7 linked regions of the Homo sapiens genome follow. The protein of the gene in region 4 purifies or fractionates together with the protein of the main gene of each other region. This does not show direct contact. Each region holds a gene or a part of one and is shown on either strand. Other genes may lie near its edges.

Evidence for each region.
Region 1: the proteins of KCNS3 (region 4) and PNPLA6 purify together in Homo sapiens (affinity purification with mass spectrometry; 2 studies listed by BioGRID and IntAct, with this or other methods). This does not show direct contact.
Region 2: the proteins of KCNS3 (region 4) and DNAJC18 purify together in Homo sapiens (affinity purification with mass spectrometry; 2 studies listed by BioGRID and IntAct, with this or other methods). This does not show direct contact.
Region 3: the proteins of KCNS3 (region 4) and TAPT1 purify together in Homo sapiens (affinity purification with mass spectrometry; 2 studies listed by BioGRID and IntAct, with this or other methods). This does not show direct contact.
Region 5: the proteins of KCNS3 (region 4) and ZDHHC9 purify together in Homo sapiens (affinity purification with mass spectrometry; 2 studies listed by BioGRID and IntAct, with this or other methods). This does not show direct contact.
Region 6: the proteins of KCNS3 (region 4) and LTAP1 purify together in Homo sapiens (affinity purification with mass spectrometry; 2 studies listed by BioGRID and IntAct, with this or other methods). This does not show direct contact.
Region 7: the proteins of KCNS3 (region 4) and TAOK2 purify together in Homo sapiens (affinity purification with mass spectrometry; 2 studies listed by BioGRID and IntAct, with this or other methods). This does not show direct contact.

What each region holds. Positions count from the first base shown.
Region 1 is NC_000019.10:7,542,124-7,546,124, forward strand, and holds part of PNPLA6 (patatin-like phospholipase domain-containing protein 6), read left to right. Parts: intron 1-437; coding exon 438-547; intron 548-637; coding exon 638-805; intron 806-883; coding exon 884-961; intron 962-4,001. UniProt on the Homo sapiens protein: Phospholipase B that deacylates intracellular phosphatidylcholine (PtdCho), generating glycerophosphocholine (GroPtdCho). This deacylation occurs at both sn-2 and sn-1 positions of PtdCho.
Region 2 is NC_000005.10:139,432,943-139,436,943, reverse strand, and holds part of DNAJC18 (dnaJ homolog subfamily C member 18), read left to right. Parts: intron 1-4,001.
Region 3 is NC_000004.12:16,184,676-16,188,676, reverse strand, and holds part of TAPT1 (transmembrane anterior posterior transformation protein 1 homolog), read left to right. Parts: intron 1-321; coding exon 322-457; intron 458-1,798; coding exon 1,799-1,896; intron 1,897-2,072; coding exon 2,073-2,142; intron 2,143-4,001. UniProt on the Homo sapiens protein: Plays a role in primary cilia formation. May act as a downstream effector of HOXC8 possibly by transducing or transmitting extracellular information required for axial skeletal patterning during development. May be involved in cartilage and bone development.
Region 4 is NC_000002.12:17,877,114-17,881,602, reverse strand, and holds the start of KCNS3 (delayed-rectifier potassium channel regulatory subunit KCNS3), read right to left. Parts: upstream 2,937-4,489; 5' UTR 2,797-2,936; intron 1-2,796. UniProt on the Homo sapiens protein: Potassium channel regulatory subunit that modulates the delayed rectifier potassium channel activity of KCNB1 by namely slowing down the deactivation and inactivation time constants.
Region 5 is NC_000023.11:129,805,567-129,809,567, reverse strand, and holds part of ZDHHC9 (palmitoyltransferase ZDHHC9), read left to right. Parts: intron 1-3,081; coding exon 3,082-3,198; 3' UTR 3,199-4,001. UniProt on the Homo sapiens protein: Palmitoyltransferase that catalyzes the addition of palmitate onto various protein substrates, such as ADRB2, GSDMD, HRAS, NRAS and CGAS. The ZDHHC9-GOLGA7 complex is a palmitoyltransferase specific for HRAS and NRAS.
Region 6 is NC_000001.11:154,210,532-154,214,532, reverse strand, and holds part of LTAP1 (protein C1orf43), read left to right. Parts: coding exon 1-76; intron 77-586; coding exon 587-640; intron 641-1,908; coding exon 1,909-2,075; intron 2,076-2,154; coding exon 2,155-2,213; coding exon of another isoform or gene 2,214-2,217; exon of another isoform or gene 2,218-3,072; intron 3,073-4,001. UniProt on the Homo sapiens protein: General regulator of phagocytosis. Required to uptake Gram negative bacterium by macrophages.
Region 7 is NC_000016.10:29,980,101-29,984,101, forward strand, and holds part of TAOK2 (serine/threonine-protein kinase TAO2), read left to right. Parts: intron 1-1,560; coding exon 1,561-1,654; intron 1,655-1,758; coding exon 1,759-1,840; intron 1,841-2,633; coding exon 2,634-2,801; intron 2,802-2,950; coding exon of another isoform or gene 2,951-2,971; coding exon 2,972-3,232; intron 3,233-3,402; coding exon 3,403-3,564; intron 3,565-4,001. UniProt on the Homo sapiens protein: Serine/threonine-protein kinase involved in different processes such as membrane blebbing and apoptotic bodies formation DNA damage response and MAPK14/p38 MAPK stress-activated MAPK cascade.

The sequences.
Region 1 (4,001 bases), on a different chromosome or scaffold from region 4:
TCCACCGCCTGCCTGTCTTGATTGTTTTAATCTGCGAAATGGGAACACTGCCAGTACTTCCCCAGGCACTGTTTTGTAGATATTCATTGAGATAGTGCTTCTCCCACCTGTTAAGAGGGATTCAGAGGGAGAGTGCAGGCGTTGATTAGTCATGTCTGCTACAGCAGTGGCCCATGGCACATTGGTATCCATTGGTCTCAGACTGCAACTGTGGTTACTCTCATCTTTTTCTTTTCTTTTGAGACCTGTCTCCCAGGCTAGAGTGCAGTGGTGCTGTCATAGCTCACTGCAGCCTCGAACTCCTATGCTCAAGTGATCCTCCAGCCCCAGCCTCCCAAATAGCTGGAACTACAGGCCTGCACCACTACACCTGGCTCATTTTTTAAAAATCTTACTCTCATCTTTATGGTTTTTGTTGCCCCCCTGCCTGCCTGCAGGCTTGCAGGGTGGCCCCCGCTCCGACTTCGACATGGCCTATGAGCGTGGCCGGATCTCCGTGTCCCTGCAGGAAGAGGCCTCCGGGGGGTCCCTGGCAGCCCCCGCTCGGGTAAGGCTTGGGACCCTGCCCGGTGGTGGAGCCCGCAGGGGAAGGTGGCTGGGAGGGAGCATCAGGAGGTCACAAGCCTGCCCCACTCAGACCCCCACTCAGGAGCCTCGTGAGCAGCCGGCAGGCGCCTGTGAATACAGCTACTGTGAGGATGAGTCGGCCACTGGTGGCTGCCCTTTCGGGCCCTACCAGGGCCGCCAGACCAGCAGCATCTTCGAGGCAGCAAAGCAGGAGCTGGCCAAGCTGATGCGGATTGAGGTGGGCAGCCGAGGGGAGCTGGGCACAGGGCGCAAGGGAGGCCTGGCTGCGCCCATCTCAACCCCCCTACCTCCCCAGGACCCCTCCCTCCTGAACAGCAGAGTCTTGCTGCACCACGCCAAAGCTGGCACCATCATTGCCCGCCAGGGAGACCAGGTGAGGCTGACCCCTGACCTGTAACCATGCCACCTGAGATCATTCCCTATGACTTCTGTGACCTCTGATCCCTGCCCTTTGACTGTAAGACCAGCACCTTCTCCCATAGAAGCAGACCTCTCTCATCCTATCATTTCCAACCTCTAACCCTTGGGTCCTGTGACCCCCACCCCCTAACCCCACCCTATGTCCTCTGGACCTGTCAACCCTTCACCTGTGACCCCTGAACCTTTTGCCCTAGGACTCCAACTCCTAGATCTCTCCTGCCTGCCCTGGCTCTTCCTGTAATTCTGTTTTCTGAACTTCTGATCCTGCAGTATTCACTAACATGTCTGCTTCTCATGCTGACCGCTGCCAGGATAGGGGCTCAATAAATGGCTACAAATCGCCATCTGGCCTCGGAAGGCCATGAACCAGCCCTGGGTCGGGGTTTCAGGGCCTTGTGGCGGCACCCAGGATGTGTAGGAAAATGTATCCTACCATTCTGTCCACTGTCCATATGGGGAAACTGAGGCCCATCAAGGGTTAGTGACCCGACTACCAGCTGAAAGTCAGGAAGCCTCAGGGTAGGAGGAGGAGGAGGAAGAAGAAGAGGAAAGTTGAAACCCACACTCTGTCCCCAGAGTGTGGCAGATGATCTAGAAAGTTCTCTGCTTCCTCATCAGTGGAATGAGGTAATAAAGAAGAGATGCCTAGTTCGCAGAACCCCAGTAAGACTTCTTTTTTTTCTTTTTTTTTTTTTTTGAGACGGAGTCTCGCTCTGTCACCCAGGCTGGAGTGCTGCAGTGGCGTGACGGTGGCTCACTGCAAGCTCCGCCTCCCGGGTTCACGCCATTCTCCTGCCTCAGCCTCCCGAGTAGCTGGGACTACAGGCGCCTGCCACCATGCCCGGCTAATTTTTTGTATTTTTACTAGAGAGGGGGTTTCACTGTGTTAGCCAGGGTGGTCTCGATCTCCTGACCTCGTGATCCGCCCGCCTAGGCCTTCCAAAGTGCTGGGATTACAGGCGTGAGCCACTGCGCCCGGCCTTTTTTTTTTTGTTTTGAGACAGAGTCTTGCTGTTGTCACCCAGGCTGGAGTGCAGTGGCACAATCTCAGCTCACTGCAACCTCCGCCTCCTGGGTTCAAGCAATTCTCCTGCCTCAGCCTCCCGAGTAGCTGGGATTACAGGGTTGTGCCACCACGCCTGGCTACTTTTTATATTTTTAGTAGAGATGGGGTTTTGCCATGTTGGCCAGCCTTGTCTCAAACTCCTGACCTCAGGTGATCCGCCTGCCTCGGCCTCCCAAAGAGCTGGGATTACAGGCATGAACCACTGTGCCCAGCCTACTGAGACATTTTTGATTGTTAGGATTTCACAGGGTGCTGTTCCTGACACCTGATGGGTAGAGATCAGGGATGCTCAAATGTACAGAGCAGCAGGCCGGAACCATACAGTCCATTATCCACAGTGTGGGGTTTGCAAGAGTGACAAGTGGTCAGGGAGGGTGTTTAGCAGCAGCTTATAGGGAGCGGGGGCTTGAGGTGACAGTGAGCTGTCATAGGCACTGGGACCCCAGCTCTGCCCCAGGCTTGGGGGAGAGAAGCCTGGGGCAGGGTTGGGGTGGGGTGGGAGCTGTGGTCCCACTGTTAGCCGGCTGGAGTGTTGCTGTGTCACTTGACCCAGTGACTCTGCTGTCCCCTTGAACCACCCATGGCAGGGATGGGCTCTTTTCTGGAGAGGAAGTCAAGGCTTTTGCCAGCTGTTCTTAGAATAGCTGAGGAAGTAAGGTTACCCTGTGGCTTCTTTGGGGGCCCCTGGGCCCTGCTTATCTGGGAGACTGCTGGCCACAACCCAGCCCTGGCCTGTCAGTGTACCACGCTGGTCTGCAGCCCCTCAGAGCTTCTCTGCGTTGGCAGGACTTTTGTTAGGGACCCTGTGCTCTCCTGTGCTTCTCCTTGAAACTTTTTTTTTTTTTCGGAGACGGAGTCTTGCTCTGTCGCCCAGGCTGGAGCGCAGCGGTGCGATCTTGGCTCACTGCAACCTCTGCCTCCCGGATTCAAGTGATTCTCCCACCTCAGCCTCCCTCGAAGCTGGGACTACAGTCACGTGCCACCACGCCTGGCTAATTTTTGTAGTTGCACTAGAGATGGGGTTTCACCATGTCGGCCAGGCTGGTCTCAAACTCCTGGCCTCAAGTGATCCACTCGCCTCAGCCTCCCAAAGTGCTGGGATTACAGGCGTGATCCTCGGCACCTGGCCACAGTCTGGAAATTCTGTCTTAGAAGGTTCCAGCATGTGTTTATATCTCCTGGGACTGTGCCTCACCCAGGGGTCCCTGCAGTGTTTTGGCAGGTGGAGCTTCACTGGGTACCAGACAGGTTGGTGTGGTGGATAAAGAAGGAATCTCTCCATTTCTGGGCGGTTTCAGTTCCTTATTTATAAAGGGATGGAACAGGAAGGTTTCTAGCTGGTCAGGCTACCCAAAGAAGAAAGAAACGTGTTTACCCAGCATTTGCCCCATCTCGAACTGTGTGCTGCTGGCTGGACAAGAGGCAGGAAAATGGCTGGGCACGGTGGCTCACGCCTGTAATCCCAGCACCTTGGGAGGCCGAGGTGAGAGGATCACTTGAGGTCAGGAGTTCGAGACCATCCTGGCCAACATGGTGAAACCCCATTTCTACTAAAAATTCAAAAATTAGTCAGGCACGATGGCGGGCGCCTCTAGTCCCAGCTACTCGGGAGCCTGAGGCAGGAGAATCACTTGAACCCAGGAGACAGGTTGCAGTGAGCTGAGATCGCACCCCTGCACTCCAGCCTGTGCAACAGAGTGAGACCCTGTCTCAAAAAAAAAAAAAAAAAAAAAGTGGGCAGGGAAAACCCTTAGTGGTCCCTGCCCTTGGGCAGCCCACCGTATTCTGAGAGACATGACTCAAAGGATTACACAAATTCTTGTAAAATCATAAGTGCTTAGTGTCACAAAGGAAATGATCTTGGCACTACAAAGTCTGGCTTAGACAGGGTGGCACCTCTAAGGGCATGACCTAAGAAGGAAGGAGG
Region 2 (4,001 bases), on a different chromosome or scaffold from region 4:
AATTAAACTACAAGCTCCTAATAAGCAAGCAAGTCACAGAATAAATCACTAGGAAAGCTAGAAAATGCTTTGAGATGAGTGAAAATGAAAACACGACGTACTAAAATGTATAGGATGCAGCTAAAACAGTGCTTAGAAGGAAATTTATAGCTCTAAATGCTTATTTTTTTAAAAAAGACTCCAAATCAGTAACCTAATCTACCTTAAGGAACTAGACAGCCTGGACAATACAGTGAAACCCCCTCTCTTCCAAAAAATATATATATACAAAAATTAGCTTGGTATGATGGCACCAACCTGTAGTCCCAGCTACTTGAGAGGCTGAGGCAGGAGGATTGCTTGAACCCAGTAGGTTGAAGCTACAGTGAGTCATAATCGCACAGCAGAGCAAGACCCTGTCTCTCAAAAAAAAAAAAAAAAAAAAAAAAGAAAGAGGGATATCCCTACCAATCCAAATACTATGAACAATTGTGTGCCAACAAATTAGATAACCTAGATAAAATCAGCAAATGCCTAGAAAGACACAAATTACTGAAACTGACCCAAGAAAAATGGAGGCCAGGCATGGTGGGTCACACCTGTAATCCCAGAGCTTTGGGGGTGCTGAGGCAGGAGGATTGCTTGAGACCAGGAGTTTGAGACCAGCCTGGGCAACACAGCAATACATTATCTCTAAAAAAAGAAAAAAAAAATACTTGGGCATGGTGGCACATGCCTGTGGTCCCAGCTACTTTGGAGACTGAAGCAGGAGAATCACTTGAGCCTAGGAATCTGAGGTTACAGTAAGCTATGGTAGTGCCACTGCATTGCAGCTTCGGTGACAGAGACCTTATTTCCAAAAAAGAAAAAGAAAAAAAAAAGGAAAACCCAAGTAGACCTACAACAAATAAGGTGATTTAATTAACAATCAAAAAAATTCTAGCTGGACATGGTGACTCATGCCTGTAATCCCATTACTTTGGGAGGCTGAGGTGGGAGGATCACTTGAGCCCAGGAGTTCAAGACCAGCCTGGCCAACATGGCGAAACTTCATTAGTACAATAAAAAACAAACAAAAAGACCCCACAAAAATTAGCCGAGCATGGTGGTGCACACCTGCAGTTCCAGCTGCTCAGGAGGCTGAGGTAGGAGGATTGATGGAGCCAGGAAGGGCGAGGCTACAGTGAGCACCACTGCACTCTAGTCTGGGTGACAGAGGGAGACCTTGTCTGAAAAAAAAAAAAAAAAAAAAAAAAAAACTTCCAATGAAGAAAAGTCCAGGCCCAGCTGGCTTCATTCTTTGAGACCAGTATTAACTCTGTAACCAAAACCAGACAAAAATATCATAAGAAGTCTAAATTATCAACCAATATCCCTTATGGATATAGATTTTAAAATATTCAATAAAATACTAGTAAAACAAATACAGCAATGTAAAAAGTATTATATATTTTCACCAAGTGGGATTTATCCCAGTATTGCAGGATTGTTTAACACACACAAGTCAATCAATGTAACATACCATGTTAATAGAATAAAGGACAAAAATCACACGATCATTTCAATAGGTACAGAAAAAGCATTTAACAAAATCCAACACTCTTTTTTTTTTGAGACGGATTCTTGCTCTGTCACCCAGGCTGGAGTGCAATGCCACGATCTCGGCTCACTGCAACCCCTGCCTCCCAGGTTCAAGCGATTCTCTGGCCTCAGCTTCCTGAGTAGCTGTGACTACAGACGCGCACCACCATGCCTAGCTAATTTTTGTATTTTTAGTAGAGACGGGGTTTCACCATGTTGGCCAGGATGGTCTCGTGACCTTGTGATCTGCCCGCCTCGGCCTCCCAAAGTGCTGGGATTACAGGTGTGAGCCACTGCGCCCAGCCCCAACACTCTTTCATAATAAAAACACTTAACTAGGAATAGAAGGGAACTTCCTCGACCTGATAAAGTCCATCTACAGAAATCCACAGTTAACATCATACTTAAAGGTGAACAACTAGGTGTTTTCCCACCAAGATCAGGAACAAGACAAGTATGTCTGTTCACTCTTGCCACTCTGTTCAACATTGTACTAGAGGGTCAAGCCAGGGCATTTAAGCAAGAAAAAGAAATAAAAGCCATCCAAATTGGAAAGAAGAGTAAAACTACATCCACAGATGACATGATCTTGTAAATGGAAAATCCTAATGAATACACACACACACACACACACAAATACTGTTAGAACTAATAAACAAGTTGGACAAAGTTACAGGATATAAGATCAATATACAAAAATTATCATTTTTCTATATACTAGCAATGAACAATAAAAAAATGAAATTAAGAAAATATAGTTGAGGCTGGGTGTGGTGGCTCATGCCTGTAATTCAAAACTTTGGGAGGCTGAGATAGGAGGATCTCTTGAAGCTAGGAGTTCAAGACGAGCCTGAGCGACATAGCGAGGCCCTGTCTCTACTAAAAATAAAAATTTAGCCAGGTGTGGTGGCATGCACCCAAAATCCCAGCTACTCAGAAGGCTGAGGTAGGTGGATCCCTTGAGCCCAGGAGTTCGAGGCTGAGGTGAGCTATGATCACCCTACTGCAATCCAGCCTGGGTGACAAAGCAAGACCCTGTCTCTATATACAAATAAATAAATAAATAGTTTTAAAAAAGAGATACAGTTGGCCTTTGAACAACACAGGTTTGAGTGGCATCAGTTTGAACCATGGATTTTTATATGTCAATTTTAAAAGATAAATACATTGGAAAAATTTTTTAGATTTGCAACAATTTGAAAAAGTGGCTCACATCTGTAATCTCAGCACTTTAGGAGGCCAAGGCAGGAAGAATACTTGGGCTCAGAAGTTTGAGACCAGCCTGGGCAACACGGCAAAACTCCGTCTCTACTAAAAATACAAAACTAGTCAGGCGTGGTGGCGCACACCTGTAATCCCAGCTACTTGGGAGGCTGAGGCGGGAGAATTGTTTGAACCCAGAAGGCAGAGGTTGCAGTGAGCTGTGATTGTGCCATTGCACTCCAGCCTGGGCAACAAGAGCGAAACTCTGTCTCAAATAATAATCATCATCATCACCATCTCACAAACCATGGAGCATGGACATACCAAAAAATTAAGAAAATTATATGAATGCATAAAATATATCTAGATTCTAGTCTATTTTATCATTTACTATCATAAAATATACACAAATCTATTATAAAAAGTGAAAATCTATCAAAACATATGCTCACAAACACTTGAGACTACATGGTACCATTTGCATTTGAGAAAAATGTAAACATACAGGTGCAGTATTAATCACACCTGCATAAAATTAACAGTAGTACTGTACTACTGTAATAATTTTGTAGTTAGCTCCTGTTATTTTGCTGAGCCTCAAGTATTGGGAGTATCTGCTTAAAATGCCACATGATGCTAATCATCTCTTTGTGAGCAGTTTGTCTCTTGAGTAAATTATGTATAGCAGTAAAAAGTGATCTCTTGCAGTTCTCCAGTTTTGTTTTTTTTTTTTTTTGAGATGGAGTTTTGCTCTTGTCGCCCAAGCCGGAGTGCAGTGGCACGATCTTGGCTCACTGCAACCTCCACCTCCCAGGTTCAAGCGATTGTCCTGCCTCAGCCTCCCAAGTAGCTGGGATTACAGGCGCCCACCATCATGCCCAGCTAATTTTTGTATTTTTAGTAGAGATGGGGTTTCACCATGTTAGCCAGGCTGGTCTTAAACTCCTGGCCTTGTGATCCACCTGCACTTAATGCCAGCAGGTAAGAAAACATTGCACTTTTTGCAAAATACCTTTTCATCTCATATTGAAAATGAAGCTTTTATATGGGTGCAGGACTGCTATAAGAAAGGCATACAGTCCATGATGTGATTATTACTTATCGCATGCCTGAGCTCAAGGCTTCCACTCACCTCAGTCTCTCAAAGTGCTGGGATTACAGGTGTGAACCCTGCGGCCAGCCCTACCTCATCAACTTTTTAGTGCAGACAAAAGTGCCCTATTCTGGAAAAGAAATGT
Region 3 (4,001 bases), on a different chromosome or scaffold from region 4:
AGTGCTGGGATTACAGGCATGAGCCACCGTGCCCGGCCAGATGTGCCCACCCCTTTTATTTTTGCCACTATTTAAGACTTTCTTTGTTACAAACATAGCTAATTAGTCTAACTGAAATTCTATACATATTTTAGCCGTTACTATTTGTTAAAGAATAAAGAAATGTGAGTGAATAAGTAAACAAAGATCCTCACTCCTCTTTAGCTTGCCTTCTACTAGGATTTAAAACACAGATCTCCAGGATTTGAGCTATATCTCAATTTTAGTTATATATTTAAATGGAATATTAAGAAACATCTTACAAATAATTTTTTTTTTTAGGTAGCTGATCGTCTGTTTTCATCTTTTGGACAAGACATATTAGATGCTCTCTATTGGACAGCAACAGAGCCTAAAGAAAGAAAAAGAGCCCACATTGGGGTGATTCCTCACTTTTTCATGGCTGTTCTCTATGTCTGTATCCTTATAGACCTACTGGAAATTTCCGACAGTTAATGCATAGTCTACCTTATTTTATTTGGTTAGCCATTTTATAGATTTAAAGATATATAGATAATGTATGTATCCTGAAGATTAATGTGAAATATTTGTGTTCTGTTGAGAAATTGATTGTCATAATAACTAACTAATTTAAGAGCCTCATGTAGGCATTACTCTTTGAGCTGCTGGAAAACAGTTCTGTTTGCAGTGTAACTGATTATAAGGAAGACTTTTATAATAAAAAGGCAGTGTATCTTTATACATACCTGATATAGATCTATATAATTTTTCGTACTTATGTTAGAATTTTTCTTGAAGTTATCTTTAAATCCAGGAATTCTTTTTTATGGGCTTAAAATGCATGGAATTTATCTAAAAGTGTAATGTGAAATTGGTTGGGAGGAGTTTTGGTGGTTTTATGTGTTTGTGTATTCTTCCCTGGCTTTAAGCTTTTCTATTGGAGAGTAAGTGCTTTACTGTATAAGCAGTGTACATGTTTGTGTGTACCCCTACATATTTATACACACATTCCTGCTCTTAAGTTCCATGTGAAGTCAGGACTCATTCACAAGAATGAGTCACTTTTTTTTTTTTCTATCTCTGTAACAGTGACACTTGAAAGAAATTGGGTTAATGCTTGGAAAGTTAAAGAACCAAGTTGGAAGATACCTGTGAGGGTAAAATCTTGTTCCAGTTTTAATGGAGTAAAGCAGTTACCACTCTTAGATATAAATTAACTATTCTGTATGTAATACAAATATAATTCTGCAGTTTATGGATATCTTCAAAATGACATATGAAGAAGAATCTTAATTATCAGATATTTCCTACTGCCTTACATTCCACATTTCCTGAAGACTCAGGGAAGAAAATCACTTCCAGAATTATATTTTGTGCTTTCTTTTTTAGAATGCAAATTATTTTAATTCAGAATGTGTATTTCTTAGTCTCTTCTTTCAGTATTTACCATAATTTATTCCATTTACTTAACAAACTTTTTTGAGGGCCTATTTCCTGAGCACTGTGCCAAGTGCCAGAGATACAGAAAGAACAAAACAACCCTGTTGCAAAGGATTCATGGTCTAAATAAATGAATGCATAGAGGTACATTTCCACTTTTGTTCGTTTCATGTGGATTGCACATATCCTGTCAAACTTATATCAACTATAGCTAATAGGGAAATTATGAAGATAATACAATACTTATTAAGACAATTTAGAAAAGAAAGTCATCTTTATTATTCACTTTCAAAATTTTATAGTATTATCAGTAATAATATGAAAGCAAATTTAAGTTTTTTCCTTGACCTTCTATTAGTTTTGCATGCAATTCTTATAATGGTTCAAGCAACAACTCTCAATGTAGCTTTTAACTCACACAACAAGTCTTTGCTTACTATCATGATGTCTAATAATGTAAGTATGAGATTTATCTTACATTTTTGAAGTTATACAGGCATTTCAGCTGCAATACTCTGGGTGGGATAAAATTCTTTGTTCTATATGTTGTTCTCCCGGAAGTTTTATAAGTAGCAAGTCCAGTTTTTAAACTGTTATAATCATAAAGATGGTATTTCTGTTTACTATTTCAGTTTGTTGAAATTAAAGGAAGTGTTTTCAAGAAGTTTGAAAAGAACAATCTCTTTCAAATGTCAAATAGCGGTATGTACAATTAGATTCTACTTGAAGTTCTGTGCAGTATTATTTTGCAGTTCATTCTGAAATCCTAATGGCACATTTTCTCTGGGCCACTCTTCAGCTTAAACTGTACCTTCTCTTATGCTATCAACATCTTTACTAGGTTTTCTTATTTTTGGTTCCTGTAATCACAAGATGTTTGAGATAAAAAAATTAGAAACATTTGTGTAGCACCATACGCTACTTTGAGAAGCTTCTTAATAGTCTAGAAATTTCTCTGAAGTGGGTGGTATTTTTCCATTTTATAGATGTGAAAACTGAAACACAGAAAATAATTTGACTTCTCCACAGTCACATAGCTTCTAGGAGAACTATGTCTATAAATCTCAGATTGTCTCTAAGTCCTTAGCTTTTTTAGTTATTATTTAGTTATTATTTACTGCCTTCGTTCTAATCCTAAAAAGTGTGAAGGCACAAAATTTTTGTGCCTGGAGTCATTGTCTTACATAGTTTTTGAAAGCCAGAGCCACATTGCGTGGTGGATCATGGAGCCCCCAAGAACAGTCCCAGGGGCTCTGCCAGGGAGTATGCTCAGAGTCAAAAGTGTTTTCACAAGAATATGAAGACATTATTCATCTCTTCTGCCATGGTGACATTTGCACAAGTCATGAAGAAATGGTGGTGTTTTAGCATGAATCCAGACAGATGTACAATAGAGAGGACCCCTAAAGGAACCTGGCTTGATGATGTCCTTGAGGAAGGAGGGGTGTGTTATGGGGAGGCCTGCAGTCCTGTCGTAGATAAGAGCACACATGGCTCATCCAAAGCAGCGCTTGTCAGACTTTTTGGTCCTGAGAACCCTTTTACACACTTTAAAAAGTATGATGATCAGCCAGGCGCAGTGGCTAACGCCTGTAATCCCAGCACGTTGGGAGGCCGAGGCTGGTGGATCACCTGAGGTCAGGAGTTCAAGACCAGCCCGGCCAACATGGTAAAACCCCGTCTCTACTAAAAATACCAAAATTAGCTGGGTGTGGTGGCGGGTACCTGTAATCCTAGCTACTGGGGAGACTGAGGCAGGAGAATTGCTTGAACCTGGGAGGCGGAGGTTGCAGTGAGCCAAGATTGTACTAGAGCACTCCAGCCTGGGTGACTAGAGTGAAACGCTGTCTCAAAAAAAAAAAAAAATTACGATGATTCCAAAGGACTTTTATTTATATGGATTATGTCTCTCCCTATTCACCATATTCGAAATGAAAACTGAGAAATTTTAATAAAAATATTACATGCTTACAAAAATAACATTTCAATAAAAAAGATATTTTATAAAACAAAATTTAGTGAGAAGAGTTTCTCAACAAGTAATGCTGGAACAGTTGGATAAAGGTTAAAAAAAAAAGAACTTTGGCCCCTTCCCTGCCCAAGAAAATTAATTCATAGTGGTTCATAACCCTAAACATAAATGCTAAAGTTATAAAACTTCTAGAACAAAATATAGGAGAAAACATTCACAACCTTGGTCTAGGCAAACATTTTTGGAGACCACACAAAAAGTACTAAATGTAAAACAAAAGAGAGAAACTGGACTTCTTCAAAATTAAAATATGTGATCATAAAACTTAAAAAGTGAAAAGGCCAGCCACAGTACTAAGAGAAAAGATTTGAGATGCATATATCTGACGATAGATTTTGTTTGTTTGTTTTCTGAATATATAACAAACTATACCAATCAATAATGAAAGGACAATCTAGTTTTAAAATGGGGAAAAGGCTTGAACAGACATTTCACAAAAGAAAATCTATAAATGTCCAATAAGGTCATGAAAAGCTGCTCGGCATTATTAGGGAAAATGTCACTGGAGAAAGACAAAGCCATAATGAGA
Region 4 (4,489 bases):
TCCTGTAAAATACGGTGATAATAGAACCTACCATCCTAAGATTGTCATCAGGATGAAGTGAGTTCATACATGTAAAAGCTTTTAGCTTTTAGTGCCTAGTACAGCGTAACAACAAATATTAGAGATCTAGGTCAGTGCAGCTAAACAGACCAAGACCCAGATTAGCAAAATGACATGTCAAGTCAAGGAGCCATAAAGAAATAGATATCACAGCTGGAAACTGGGTCCCCACATCCTATTCTCTTCTCTATGATGTTTCTTTGTGGGTATTTCACACAGGTGGCACTCTGGAAGATGCACTTTCCTGACACCTGATAAGCAGAGTCAATAAACACACCCACCTTCTCTGCTTCAACATACCCTGCAGAGTCGTCCTTCCTCCTAGTGAGACCTCAGGCCCACCATTTCCCACTGGCCTCCCATCTGACTCAACATGCACCTGGGGGGTTCCATCTACTGCTGGCTCCCACAGCAATACTGCAGTGAAGAAAGCAAGCATCACATCCTCATGCAGTTGTTATGGGAATTAAATGAGATAATGCCTGGAAAAGTGCCTAGCAGAGTATCTGATATATAGTATGCAGCTAATAAATGTTATCTATTAAAAAATAGAAGGAAAAGGAGGAGGAAAACCCTGTGGTGCCTACTCTCTCAAAGCTGACACACATTCCAATGGCAAATGCCAGACACAGGGCAGATTGAGATGGGTGGTAGAACAGAGGGATGCACGTCTGTGAAGAATTACAGTGAAGGGCAAAACCCACTGAAGACAGGAGGGAGCTGCAGTTCCCACTCTCCCCCTTCCTTCTTAAAAGAAGATGATGATACTCAGTTGGTGCTTTGCTGGCAAACTCAAGCTCCAGAGCTTTGGATTTTTAATATTATAATATTTCAGAACAGAACAAAGACTGCTTCTGACCTCCCAATTTGCCCTCATACACTTGACCAGCAAAACCTTAGCGTAGCTGCATTCATCAATGGCTCTATTCAGGCAATTATGGGTCAGACAAAAGATTCAATTAATACTGATCCCGCAAGTCTCCTTAGTATATTCACAACATGCTTTGGATTCAGAGTTCTATGGCACCTTCATATGACCTTCTCCGGATCCCAATATTGACAATTCCTAGTTCAGAAACGACAAACATAATATTAGAACAAGAGAAGAAGGGAAGCTGGTGAGAAAGAAAGAACAGACTAGACTGGGTGCAGAAATTATATCATCCATTTGCTGTCTGTCCCCGAGTGCATCCTGGGGCCTGGCCCATGGCGGGCTGGTTGGAAATGCATACTGAACGAGTCAATCTCCTCAAGAAGGTCACCACCCAGGTAAGAAGTGGAGCCTGCACATTACACCAAGTTCAGCTAGAGAATCAAAGCCACCTCTTCGGCTCCAGATATGCAGGGAAGACAAAGCACGAGGGCATATGCCTTCAGCTAAGAGATAGGTGCGTGCTTCCTGTTTACCTGGGCAGGTATTTGCAAATAGTCTAAGAAGGGGGGCAACTAGGAGTGACTTACACAGTTCCAAGTGAATGGTTACGCAAATCGCTTGAGTAAATACAGGGAAAGAAACAGGAAAGGCTTCTGAACTGTTTGTACTCATCTGCTCCAGTATTTTCAGAGGGTAGGGTGAAAGACAAAAAACCCGAACGAAGGCTCCGGGCCAACCACAAAGCTACTCTCCGGCAGGAACGTAAGGAACACCTACCGCCCCTCCCCCCACTTCACGCCTTGGCACCAAACCAGGGCCCCTGGGTCATTTTGGCAGGTGGAGGTAGCTCTTTGCTGTCCTCTGCCCCTGCTGCGGGCCACCCGAGTGAAGCTTTCGGCTCGGTCTCCCCAGACAAAACCGGGGGGAGACATCAAGAATGCAAAAGGTGCTCCTTTCTCCAAATGAACGAGAAGGGACAGAGCGGGGTTGGGGGTGCAGGACAAGCCCTGCAATGCGAAAGGCGCCCAGCCAGGCTCGCCGCGGCCCCTGCCGGCAAGACTGGCTCGCTTGCTAGCCAAGGTGCCTCAGGAGGTCGGGCAGCCACCCAGAAAGGCGCGAAAAAAAAAAGAGGAGTTCCTGACCCCGGGGTGACCCTTCCCCACCACTGCCACTGATCCAAACGCAGAGTCCGCAAGTGACTCCACACCTGCGCTGCAAGCCTCACGCCGTCCCCACCCAGGGCGCAGCGCTGCACGAGAGCAAGGGCCCTGGGTTCGCTCTTCCCTGCAACTGTCGCGGGGCGCCTAGCACAGCTGCAGGGCAAAGGGGAGGGGAGGAATGACAAAGAAGGCGGAGCAGACGGCCCGGGAAGCATTTACAAGCGCCAGGAAAGCGCCTCCTCTCGAGGAAGGGAAGGAACGGCTTCCCGGCCAAGGAAACGCCCCGGGGATGCCCCTACGCGAGGTGCCGCCTTTCTTCGGCTCATCGATTCTCCCGCCTCCAGGTGGTCCTCCCCCTGACCATAGCCCACCCCACTCCCCGAAAGCTGATCCTAAATACCTTCCCCGAGGCTTTCAAATCAACCCAGCCACCGCTTCAACAGCCCGCAGTTCACGCAACAGGCGGAGCCTTAGGGCTCCAGCGACGGCGGGCTCTGGGGACCAGAGGATGCGGGCGCCGCGGGCCAGACGCCCAGAAGGACGGAAAGTGCTCTGCGGCCGTAGACCCTCGGGGTCGTGCACCCGCGACCTGGACCACAGGAGACTGGGGCAGCAAAAGGTGGGGGAAGGCGCGGTAAAGTTGCAGGGTCGCCCGGAGAAGTCTCCGGAGCGCGCAGGGAGGTGGGGACGCCAGCCAGGTACCTGCAGGAGTCCGGACGCATCCAGCTAGCTCCGCTCTGCGACGCCGCCTGCCCGCGCTGCAGGGATCAGGCCTCGCGGCGCGGCCCCGCGCCTGCCGCCGCGGCGGCGAGGAGAGCGGGGTGGCCCGCGTCGGCCGGTCTGTCCGTCGGTCCCGCCCCGCTAGAGCGAGGCTCCCGGGAGCTGCGGGCGGGGCGGGGCCGGACGGGACGGGGCGGGGCCCGCCGCTCGGCCGCCGCCCCATTGGTCGCAGCTCCGCCAGCCCCTCGCTTCGGGCCCGCAGCCGGGCGCCCCGGGCCGAGGGCGCGGGCGGCTGAGGACTGCGGGGCTCCGACCGCCAGACAGGCGGACAGACCCATAGACCTAGATGCTGCCCTGCCGGCCGCGCGCCCCCGCCCAGGCCCAAGTGCAGAGTCACCCCGGAGCGGCAGGCGCTGTCCGGGTGGGACCAGGAGCGCGCCCCGCGCCTCCCACCTGCGCGCCCTCCTGGGCCGGAAGCGCCGTGGCCCTGCGGGAAAAAGATGACCTCCCCCGCGGCCCCGGCGGCTGGGGCAACCGCCTTTCTAAAGTCGCGGCCCAAGCGACACTTTGCTAATTTGCCTGGATTTCCTCAGGAAATCGCGAGGCCCAAACTTGTTTTAAAACAAAGTGCGAAGGAGAGTACATATAGCTCCAGTTCCTGCCAATGTTTGCCATCGGTCCCGCTGCCTGAAGACTCAGGCACAGTGCAGAACAAGATGCTTTGTCTTATTCCTCCACTCACCGAGTCAGAAGAGGTGCTTGGACATTTGCACCAAGCAGATGCGCCTCATATGTAGAAGAGGAACCAGTCGGGTCCCCTTTCGGAAGGACGAATGGAAGAGGAAGTCAGGGGACGATGCCTTCAGCCGACGTTGAGGAACAAACCAGGACCTCGGCGAGGACAGCGTGTGGTCCAGAAGGCATCGCTGGCCTCGCTGCACTGAGCGAGAGCGCTCAGTTAACAGCCAGGAGGAGAAATGGGACGCTTCGGGACCCACCCCCGCGCTCCCCCTCCCGCCCCCAAACTGCAGATTTTTAAGTTGTGCAGACGTGGAACAATTCCTCGGAGCCAGCTGCTCCAAGCTAAGGCGCCCAGTGTTCCCTGGGTTCCTACCCGCAGCATACGCCCTGCCAGCTGCCCCCAAGCCAGCACCCGCTGACCACTCACCTCAGGCAAGCACCTAGGAAGACGATGCAGATTCAAGCTCCAGACCTTGAGCCAAGCGCTGGGGAGGGAATGGGGGCAAAGAGATGGTGGAAAACACTTTCCTGAACTTACTGAATACCCTATGTTATGTGTGGGTTTTCTAATTGTTCTTTGCTTAATGAAAAACCCACGTTGGAAATCAGAAAAAGGCAGTAATCCTCACCGTATCTTGTGGGCTTCAAAGAGGAGGTTTTCCCCTTAAAGGGAGTTTTGGTCCAGAGGAGAGGCTAACAGCAGGCAGGAAGGGCAGAGGAAAAGATAAAGCCTAGGGTGGTCTTCCCCCTGAGGCCTGGAGCCCACCAAGCTCCAACAGTTTCATTTGGCTTCTGGGAAGCAAAGTACAGATGCATGTGTCTGCAGAGCACTGTTCTGAGCCATTTGTCCCTAATTCCATGGTTCTTTGGTTCCTCCAATCTTGTCTCCTCTCCTGTGGAAGAGGATCCAAAGCATTGGTCCACACTGCTATTT
Region 5 (4,001 bases), on a different chromosome or scaffold from region 4:
TTCCCCAGCCACACCCCTAGGCAACCACTAATCTACTTCCTTTTAGTACAGATTTCTCTCTTCTGGGTATTTCATGTAAATGAAATCATACAATATGTGGTCTTTTGTGACTGGCTTCTTTTACTTAGCATGTTTTCGAGGTTTGTCCATGTTGTACTATGTAGCAGTACTTCGTTCCTTTATATGGCCAAATGATATTCCATTATATGGATATACCACATTTCATTTATCCATTCATCAGTTGATGGACATTTGGATTGTTTCCACCATTTGATTATTATGAGTGATGCTGCTATGAACATTTGTGTACCAATTTTTGCATGGCCATATATTTTCATTTCTCTTGGCTATATACCTGGGAGTAAAATAGCTAGGTCACATGGTAGCTCTATGTTTAACCTTTAAGGTACTGCTGAACTGTTTTCCAAAGTGGCTGCACCATTTTATACCCCCACTAGCAGTGCCTGAGGGTTCCAGTTTCTCTACATCCTCTGCAACACTTATTATCTGACATTTTGAGTCTAGCCATCTTAGTGAATGTGAAGTGGTATCTCATTGTGGTTTTGATTTGCATTTCCCTGATGACTAATGATGTCGAATATCTTTTCATGTGCTTATTGGCCATTTTTATGTGCTCATTGGAGAAGTGTCTGTTCAGAGCTTTTGTCTATTTTTTAATTGGATTGTTTGTCTTTTTTATTGTTGAGTTGTAAGAGTTCTTTATGTAATCTGTATGCAAGTCTCTTACCAGATATACAATTTGCAAATATTTTCTCCTATTCCATGGGTTATCTTTTAATTTTCTTGATAGTGTCCTTTGGAGCACAAAATTTTTAAATTTTGATGTAGTCCAGTTTGTCTATTTTTTTCTTTTGTTGTTTGTACTTTTTGGTGTCATATCTGAGAAACTGTTGCCTAATCCAAAGTCATGAAGATTTATGCCCTTGTTTTCTTGTAAGAGCTGTACAGTTTTGGCTCTTACATTTAGGTTTTTGATCCATTTTGAGTTAATTTTTATATATGGTGTGAGGTAGAGGGTCCACATTCTTTCTTTTGCCTGTAGCTATCCAGTTGTCTCTGCACCATTTGTTGAAAGGACTATTCTTCTCCCATAGACTTGTCTTGGCACCCTTGTTGAAAATCTATAAATGTGAGAGTTCATTTCTGGACTTTCAGTTCTATTGTATTGCTCAATATGTCTGTTCTTATGCTAGTACCACGCTGTCTTGATTACTTTAGCATTGTAGTAAGTTTTGAAATCAGGAAATGTGAGTCCTCCAACTTTATACTTCTTTTTCATGATTGTTTTGGCTCTTCTGGGTGCCTTAAATTTCCGTATGAATCTTAGGATCAACTTGTCATTTATGAAAAGAAGCCAGCTGGAATTTTGATGGGGATTTCATTGAATCTATAGATCAATTTGGGGAAATATTGCCATCCTAACAAGATTAAATATTCTGAGCCATTTACATGGACTGTATTTTCACATATTTAGGTATGATTTGATTTCTTTCAACAACATTTTGTAGTTTTCAGAGTATAAGTTTTACACTTTTGTTACATTTATTCATAAATATTTGATTATTTTTCATGTTATTGTAAGTGAAATTGTTTTACTAATTTCATTTTTGGATTTTTCACTTGGAGTGTATTGAAAGACAATTGATTTTTATATATGGATCTTATACCCTAAAACCTTGCCAAGCTTGTTCATTAGTTCTTTTTTGTTTGTTTTTGTTTTTATTTTATGAGATGGAGTTTCGCTCTGTTGCCCAGGCTGGAGTGCGGCAGCGCCATCTTGGCTCACTGCAACCTCCACCTCCTGGGTTCAAGTGATTCTTCTGCCTCAGCCTCCCAAGTAGCTGGGATTACAGGTGCCCACCACCACACCGGCTAATTTTTGTGTTTTTAGTAGAGACCGGGTTTTGCCATGTTGGCCAGGCTGGTCTCAAACTCCTGACCTCAAGTGATCTACCCTCCTCGGCCTCCCAAAGTGCTGGAATTATAGGCACGAGCCACCGTACTCGGCCCTTGTTCATTAGTTCTAATAGATTTTTAGTAGTTTGAACTTTGTTTTAAAATAGAATCATACTTTTTTTTTTTTTTTTTTTTTCTGAGACGGAGTCTCGCTCTGTCGCCCAGGCCGGACTGCGGACTGCAGTGGCGCAATCTCGGCTCACTGCAAGCTCCGCTTCCCGGGTTCACGCCATTCTCCTGCCTCAGCCTCCCGAGTAGCTGGGACTACAGGCGCCCGCCACCGCGCCCGGCTAATGTTTTGTATTTTTAGTAGAGACGGGGTTTCACCTTGTTAGCCAGGATGGTCTCGATCTCCTGACCTCATGATCCACCCGCCTCGGCCTCCCAAAGTGCTGGGATTACAGGCGTGAGCCACCGCGCCCGGCCAGAATCATACTTTTAAGTGAATTCTTTTTATAAGGTAGATAATAGTTCTCTACTTTGCCTTTCCTAAATTTTGAATTTCCTTTTAAAGTACAGCAACCCGTGTTTATATATTATTGTTGTCATTTTTAATATTATTTTTTAAATGAGTCTGGACTCAAATTGTAACAATCTAGGTTAGTTATTCTTGGTTCAAAGTGGAGAAGGGTGGTATTTTAGAATCACTTGGGGACATTTTCAAACCACATATGACCAGCTGAAAATTTGGACACTTGGCCTTCTTTGGTTCAGAATCACTATTCTAATGAGCTGTGTGTTCGGGCAGAAACACGATTGAGGACCATTGGGTCAGGCCTTGTTACATAAGTATGTTATGACATTTGTTCTGAAGTGGGGAGGACCTGTGTAATTATTTGTGATTCCTATTATTATGACTATTAATAATAATAGAAAAATCTGTCCCCAACCAACAGTTAAGGATCAAACTCAAATAAACTTCAGTTGTGTTCTGCCGAGAAGACGATAGCTTGGTGTTGGTTCTGAGTTTGGTGTTGGTGGCTGCATATCTGTAGCATCAGTGTGATCAGGGGGCTGAGAGGAAGAGTTCAGTGTCTAAGGTTTATCTGCATTTGGATTTTGAGGAACAGCTTTGTGTTGAATCTCATATCTTTTCCTTCTCAGGCCCCCACAGAACACCTGAACTCAAATGAGATGCCGGAGGACAGCAGCACTCCCGAAGAGATGCCACCTCCAGAGCCCCCAGAGCCACCACAGGAGGCAGCTGAAGCTGAGAAGTAGCCTATCTATGGAAGAGACTTTTGTTTGTGTTTAATTAGGGCTATGAGAGATTTCAGGTGAGAAGTTAAACCTGAGACAGAGAGCAAGTAAGCTGTCCCTTTTAACTGTTTTTCTTTGGTCTTTAGTCACCCAGTTGCACACTGGCATTTTCTTGCTGCAAGCTTTTTTAAATTTCTGAACTCAAGGCAGTGGCAGAAGATGTCAGTCACCTCTGATAACTGGAAAAATGGGTCTCTTGGGCCCTGGCACTGGTTCTCCATGGCCTCAGCCACAGGGTCCCCTTGGACCCCCTCTCTTCCCTCCAGATCCCAGCCCTCCTGCTTGGGGTCACTGGTCTCATTCTGGGGCTAAAAGTTTTTGAGACTGGCTCAAATCCTCCCAAGCTGCTGCACGTGCTGAGTCCAGAGGCAGTCACAGAGACCTCTGGCCAGGGGATCCTAACTGGGTTCTTGGGGTCTTCAGGACTGAAGAGGAGGGAGAGTGGGGTCAGAAGATTCTCCTGGCCACCAAGTGCCAGCATTGCCCACAAATCCTTTTAGGAATGGGACAGGTACCTTCCACTTGTTGTATTTATTAGTGTAGCTTCTCCTTTGTCTCCCATCCACTCTGACACCTAAGCCCCACTCTTTTCCCATTAGATATATGTAAGTAGTTGTAGTAGAGATAATAATTGACATTTCTCGTAGACTACCCAGAAACTTTTTTAATACCTGTGCCATTCTCAATAAGAATTTATGAGATGCCAGCGGCATAGCCCTTCACACTCTCTGTCTCATCTCTCCTCCTTTCTCATTAGCCCCTTT
Region 6 (4,001 bases), on a different chromosome or scaffold from region 4:
GATATCAAGTATGAGCCCCAGCTCCTTGCAGATGATGATGCTAGACTACTACAACTGGAAACCCAGGGAAATCAAAGTATGTGGCAAGCTCTTGGAATGCTTCAGTGAGGAGTCCCACAAGTCCAGAATTCCTTTTCTCTCAGAGTTGTCAAAAGCTGCTGGCAAAGCCTTAGTTATTCCTGTTATTGGATATATGTTAGATGCAGAGCCCATTTATTAGCTTGCTGGAGTTTGGGGAATTTTTTTTTTCTTTTTTGAGATGGAGTTTCACTCTTGTTGCCCAGGCTGGAGTGCAATGGTGCAGTCTCAGCTCACTGCAACCTCCACCCCCTTGTTCAAGCAATTCTTCTACCTCAGCCTCCTGAGTAGCTGGGATTACAGGCATGCGCCACCACGCCTGGCTAATTTTGTGTTTTTACTAGAGACGGGGTTTCTCCATGTTGGTCAGGCTGGTCTCAAACTCCTGACCTCAGGTGATCCACCCACCTCAGCCTCCCAAAGTGTTGGGATTACAGGCATGAGCCACCACGCCCAGCCTGGGGAATATTTTTAGGGTTATGCCTAACACCAGTCTTTTCCTCAACAGGTTGCTACAACTATCTGTATAGGATGAAAGCTCTGGATGCCATTCGTACCTCTGGTAAGGGCTACCTGACAGGGTCCATTCTAGGATCCTGAAAGCCCACCTAGGGAACAGAGTAATGAACCCACTTTGTATGTTAGGATTTGTCCTTTCTGCACATCCCTGGCTAGTAGGAAATTCTAGAGTTTTGAAAGTACTAGATTAGAGATTTTGCTGAAGGAAATGATATAAGCAGGTTATTCTCCAAAGAGTCTGGGTGTTTTGTTTTTTAAAGTTCTTCTCTTGAGACCTTTAGTTTCATGAAGTAGATGATAGTAATTTGCTTGTTTTTCCACAAAGGACAGGTGGCACCTGCTTTTTCACTAAGCCCAAGATAGATTGTTCTTGAATTTTTTCCATTCTGTCAACACTTGTCATATATGCTTTATCTCTATGAAAACAGTTTATATCTTAAACCTAGGATGGATGAGTAAGCAGGATGGTAAAATGTGTGATGACACTATCATGTGTCATAGATGTAGCTTACAACTGTGGTGTTACCACCAAATGACCACTCAGGCACAGCTTTATACCTTTGGTCTCAATCAGAATCTCCCTCTAACTCAACTTGCTCATTTCATTAGACCTATTTCTTTTTATTTTTGAGACGGAGTCTTGCTCTGTTGCCCAGGCTGGAGTGCAGTAGCACGATCTTGGCTCACCACAACCTCCACCTCCTGGGTTCAAGCGGTTCTCCTGCCTCAGCCTCCCGAGTAGCTGGGATTACAGGTACCTACCACCATGCCTGGTTAATTTTTGTATTTTTAGTAGGGACAGGTTTTCACCATGTTGGCCAGGCTGGTCTCAAACTCCTGACCTCAGGTGATCTGCCTGCCCCGGCCTCCCAAATTGCTGTAATTACAGGCGTGAGCCACTGCGCCCAGCTTCATTAGACCTACTTCTAAGTTTGGGGAATTAACTAGAAAGACTAAAGAATGGGGCAGGCGCAGTGGCTCATGCCTGTAATCCCAACGCTTTGGGAGGGCGAGGCAGACAGATCACAGGAGGCCAGGAGTTCAAGACCAACCTAGCCAACAAGGTGAAACCCTTTTGTATTTTTGTCTCTACTAAAAATACAAAAATAAGCCTGGCATGGTGGTGCACATCTGTAATCCCAGCTAATCAGGAGGCTGAGACTAGAGAATTGCTCAAACCTAGGAGGTGGAGGTTGCAGTGAGCCAAGATCACTGCCACTGCACTCCAGCCCGGGTGACAGAGCGAGACTCCATCTCAAAAAAAAAGACTAAAGAATGAGAAGAGATATCATTGTGCTGTTTTCTCCACAGAGATCCCATTTCATTCTGAAGGCCGGCATCCCCGTTCCTTAATGGGCAAGAATTTCCGCTCCTACCTGCTGGATCTGCGAAACACTAGTACGCCTTTCAAGGGTGTACGCAAAGCACTCATTGATACCCTTTTGGATGGCTATGAAACAGCCCGCTATGGGACAGGGGTAAGCCAGTTTTTTCTTCGGGGCACTAAAGAGATCCCTCAGACTGAGAGATCCTCACTCTTCCTTTCTCTTTCCTAAGGTCTTTGGCCAGAATGAGTACCTACGCTATCAGGAGGCCCTGAGTGAGCTGGCCACTGCGTGAGTTTGGAGGGGAACGTGTCAGAGGGAGCTGGTACAGTAGTGTTGGACTGTTGCCACAGTGCAGTGACCTTCATAAAGCATATAAACAAAATCCATGATACCATAAGAGTTGTCAGGTTCTAGACTATTAGATCAGTCTCTTACATTAGAAAGCAGATGCGGCCGGGCACAGTGGTTCACGCCTATAATCCCAGCACTTTGGGAGGCCGAGGCGGGAGGATCATCTGAGGTTGGGAATCCGAGACCAGCCTGACCAACATGGAGAAACCCCGTTCTCTACTAAAAATACAAAATTAGCCGGGCGTGGTGGCGCATGCCTGTAATCCTAGCTTCTGGGGAGGCTGAGGCAGGAGAATCTCTTGAACCCGGGAGGCGGAGGTTGCGGTGAGCCAAGATCGTGCCATTATACTCCAGCCTGGGCAACAAAAGTGAAACTCTGTCTCAAAAAAAAAAAAGAAGAAAAGAAAGCAGATGCAACTATACAAGCTAGTAAAAGAAGTTTTTACTAGCATTTTTCTTGTGTGCATTTTTCTTGTCTTTTGTTTAGCCCAATAAAATGTCAAAATTGGTGTAGCCTAGCAAAGGGAATAGTTTTTCAGCACACACAGGGATTCCTTCTCTTCAGAGTCTCAGCGTCCCTTTTGTGTCTTGGCCCAATAAAAGTAAGAATTAAATAACATTGGGCCGGGCGCGGTGGCTCACGCCTGTAATCCCAGCACTTTGGGAGGCCGAGGCAGGCGAATCATGAGGTCAAGAGATCAAGACCATCCTAGCCAACAAGGTGAAACCCTGTCTCTACTAAAAATACAAAAATTAGCTGGGCATGGTGGTGCGTGCCTGTAATCTCAGCTACTCGGGTGGCTGAGGCAGGAGAATCGCTTGACCCCAGGAGGCAGAGGTTGCAGTGAGCTGAGATCACGCCACTGCACTCCAGCCTGGTGACAGAGCAAGACTCCATCTCAAAAAAAAAAAAAAAAAAAAAAAAAAAAAAAGAATTAAATAACATCTATTTTTGGCCGGGCGCGGTGGCTCACGCCTATAATCCCAGCACTTTGGGAGGCCGAGGAGGGTGGATCACAAGGTCAGGAGTTCAAGACCAGCCTGGCCAACATGGTGAAACCTCGTCTTTACTGAAAATACAAAAATTAGCTGGGCATGCTGGCGGGCTCCTGTAATACCAGCTACTCGGGAGGCTGAGGCAGAAATCACTTGAACCCGGGAGGTGGAGGTTGCAATGAGCCGATATCATGCCATTGCACTTCAGCTGGGGTGACAAGAGCATGACTGTCTCAAAAAAAAAATAAAAATTAAAAATTAAAAAAATCTATTTTTACTACCACTTAAAGTATTAGTAACCATGTCTGAAACAAAGGCCATCGCTATAGAGTCAGCTGTTGAGCATTTGTGTCACAGGAGAGGATTCATGGCTTTTGTTTGGGAATGTTTTTAATACACACTAAACATAGTCTCGTATTTTCATGCAAATGTTAAAATCAAAGTTCTTGGCGAGAAAGGAAAGCCAATCTAGAGTAAAAACTTAGGCCGGGCGCAGTGGCTCACACCTGTAATCCCAACACTGGGAGGCCGAGGCAGGTGGATCATCTAAGGTCAGGAGTTCAAGACCAGCTTAACCAACATGGTGAAACCCCATCTCTACAAAAATACAAAAATTAGCCGGGCATGATGATGTGCGCACCTGTAATGCCAGCCACTCAGGAAGGTGAGGCAGGAGAATCGCTTGAACCTGGGAGGTGGAGGTTGCAGTGAGCCAAGATCGTGCCATTC
Region 7 (4,001 bases), on a different chromosome or scaffold from region 4:
TGGAACCTAGCATGTAATGCAGAGAATATTGAAGGATAAGGCCAGAGAGTTAGGTCCAAGTGAGTTCCTAAGGCCTTGAAGCCATGCCAAGGTTCTCATCTCTGTCAGCCAGCACTATTGAAACAATTCTTTAATGAGGTAGGTAACCTTTATAAGGCTTCCAACACAATGCCAGGCACAAAACAGTTGCCTAAGAGTTGCTGTTAGTTTCTCTTATCAACAGCCTCCTGCAGTGATCTCTCCAGTCTCTTCTCCCTTCCAGTCTGTCTTAAGTACTGATGCCAGAGAGGTCTGCCTAAGCTCAGTGCTGTCATTTCACTCCCTGTTTGGAGCCATGAGTGGCCCCCTGTTGCCTTCAAGACTGAAGCCATCCCCATCCTTCCTCCCACCAACCTAGAGGCTTTGCTTCGTAAATGCTGGCCCTTTCCTTCATGGGCTCCACCCTCTGAGTGTGTCATGAACTCTTCCACTTCCTTGCCTTGGTTCGTATTGGGTCCTCTGCCCGAGGTCAGAGATTTGGACGAGCCCTTCTCCTCCATCTTCACAGTCTCCATTTACCATTAGATGCCAGGCCCAGACAGTTGATGAAAAATGTAAGAAACGGACCCAAGTATAAGAAAAAGCTAGATCTGTCCATTTTATTTCTAGTTTTTGGAAGAGATGTGGATACAGAGAAATATTACTCTACTATTGAAAAAAATATATATCAGTCTGATTATAAATGTCAACTCATACTAAGTCAATATCAGGGAAGCAGTGTGGAGAAGGATGTGGCAAACTGGAGATTGCTGTTTCCATAGAAAGAGGGCAGCTAATGCTTATCTCCAGACCATTGTTATGCAGTAATGTAGACTCCATTTCACCAGATTTAATTCTTAAGGAGAAACTGGAAACTTGTATTATTATTTGATTATTACTTTTGGCAGTTAATTTTAAAAATCACCGTTTAGGCCAAAACAACATGACATTTGTCTGGGCTACAAGGGACTCTTAGCGACTCTTAGCTTGCACTTACCTTTCTAATCTCAGGGCTTTTTACAAAGCCCTTCTCTGAATTCCCTGAAGATATGCTAGCTTGAAGGCTCACTGCATACTCTCAACTTCCCAGCCACTTCCCTGTTTCCCTCTTATACCAGTTAATACTTTGATGTTATTTTTTCAGTCCTATTTAATCTTTTAGACTGGAGGTTCCTTGAGGGTGGGGCCTAATTCTTGTTTTTATCTTCCCCATAGCAATTATCAAGTTATCTGCTCCCTTTGGCACCTAAGAAATATTAGTTGGGGTGATAACTGAATGGCTGTCCTTCTGCCTTCGTTACTGCTTTTGTGGATGTTATTTTCTTTGACCCCTATTCCACCCGTGTGCAGTGGAGAGGATGGGTGTTGTATTTTACAGAGGAAGGAATTAACTGAGACGCAACAGGATGATGGGAACTTCTCAAGGTCATGTGGCAAGGAAGTCAAGGAATTGGGGTTTGAACCCAAGTCGTCTCAGTTCCATTCCATTGTCCTCTACCCCCTGCCACCTCTCACCTTCTTCCCTTTCACCTTTTTCTGTAGCTGAACGGAAACCACCGCTCTTTAACATGAATGCGATGAGTGCCTTATACCACATTGCACAGAACGAATCCCCCGTGCTCCAGTCAGGACACTGGTGAGGACTGAGATTCCGAATCTGGGCCCAGGCGTTAGGCCATGGGGTATGGATGCCTGACTCATGCCTTCCCCACCCCTCTCCCACCCTCCTGTGACTTTCAGGTCTGAGTACTTCCGGAATTTTGTCGACTCCTGTCTTCAGAAAATCCCTCAAGACAGACCAACCTCAGAGGTTCTCCTGAAGGTGAGGGCCTGCTGGCCTAGCATTCTCCTGGAACTGTAGCTTGTTACAGCCACAAGAACCCCCAGGGAAATTAGTGGTTCCCAGTTCCTCCTCCACCAAGAGCTTCGTTGATGAATTCCCACCCCATCCCCAATGCCTAGTGGACTCTGTGTTTTACAAGATTTTGTCTACCAGACTGCCTTAATTTATTAAGTAATAAACTGTTTTCCCTTCTTTTATTAATCAAAGATTTATATAATTGCCAGCCAGAGCTTCTGGTCAGCATGTGATAACCAGGGTTGCCCCACTGATCTGATGTAATGCAAGCCAAAAGCCTGTGTAGCCTTATCATGGGTAAATGTATGATTTCCCTTAGGTGTTTTTTGAATTATCAAAAATGGAGGGGCCCCATTCCCTTCACAGACCCATGGGGGCCTGAGGAGCCGTAGTTGGAAACTTCAGATTATGTAGTTGGACCCACTTGTTTTATAATTGTAGGATACTGTATGAAGCCCAGAGGGGCCTCATGACATGTCCAAGGTCACATAGCCCTTTAGTAGAGGAGCTGGACGAGAATCCAGTTCTCCTGACTGTCCCTGCCTGTCAGCCATGCTTAGAGGAAGAAGAGTCTGTCTGGGGAGTAGGTACTGGGTGGTACAGAAAATTGTGAGAGAAGGGCTTGGGATAAGGCCAGCATCAACCCGTGGTGGGCGTGGGCCCCAGAAGAGTGCCTCAGGCCTGAGGGAATGCCAAGGGCTGTGGGTTGTGGGGGGAAGGGGAGTTGGCAGCAGACCTCAGTGCCCTCTTCCCCCAGCACCGCTTTGTGCTCCGGGAGCGGCCACCCACAGTCATCATGGACCTGATCCAGAGGACCAAGGATGCCGTGCGGGAGCTGGACAACCTGCAGTACCGCAAGATGAAGAAGATCCTGTTCCAAGAGGCACCCAACGGCCCTGGTGCCGAGGCCCCAGAGGAGGAAGAGGTGACCCAGCTTGCCCTAACACCCCTCTTTATACCCCATGTGTGCCTGCCCCCTGCAGTTGCTTGGCCCCTTCCCCAGCCCTACTCACACCACCATCTTCCCATGCTACCTCCATGCATATGCCCCAGGGCTTCCCCTTCCCTGTCCAGCAGCCTACGCCCTGTTCGCAGGAGGCCGAGCCCTACATGCACCGGGCCGGGACTCTGACCAGCCTCGAGAGTAGCCACTCAGTGCCCAGCATGTCCATCAGCGCCTCCAGCCAGAGCAGCTCCGTCAACAGCCTAGCAGATGCCTCAGACAACGAGGAAGAGGAGGAGGAGGAGGAGGAAGAGGAGGAGGAGGAAGAAGGCCCTGAAGCCCGGGAGATGGCCATGATGCAGGAGGGGGAGCACACAGTCACCTCTCACAGCTCCATTATCCACCGGCTGCCGGTACACAGCTCACCCTTGGGGGACCCGAGCCACCTGCTCTAGAACTGCCTGGGTCTTCGCCCTCCTTCCCTAAGTGCAGCACTCCTCTGAGTCTGATTGGCTGTCCTCAGGTAGCTCTCTTTGGACCCAGTGGCCTCTGAGCCTTGGGTGTTCCTTCTATCTCCCTCTAGGGCTCTGACAACCTATATGATGACCCCTACCAGCCAGAGATAACCCCCAGCCCTCTCCAGCCGCCTGCAGCCCCAGCTCCCACTTCCACCACCTCTTCCGCCCGCCGCCGGGCCTACTGCCGTAACCGAGACCACTTTGCCACCATCCGAACCGCCTCCCTGGTGAGTGTAGCCATCCTCACTCAGCCTGCTCGCTGTCTGTTTTTTAAGTCTTTTTAAGTCTAGAAATGATTTCCTCCCTGTGGCATGGGATTGAGTCTGGATTCTACCCTCATTTTCTGTTGCTGGCTCCTGCCTGCTCCCCTTAACCCTCCTGCTTCCCTCCTCTTCCCAGTGGACTGTTTTGGTCATATGGCCCAATCTGGGTGTTTCTAGCTTGGCAAACTCTTACTCCGTTTTTGTGGCCTGACTTAACTGACATCTCCTGGGTTGCCTTCCCAGGCTCCTCTGGTGAGTCAGATGCTTCACAGTTGTGTGCTGGGGAAGCCCAGTGCTGGGGGAGCCCTGTGCCTGTGGAGCCCTGTGCTGGGGGTGTCCAGTGCTGGGGAGCCCTGTGCCGGGGGTGCCCTGTGCTTGGGTGGTCCTGAACAGCATCATGA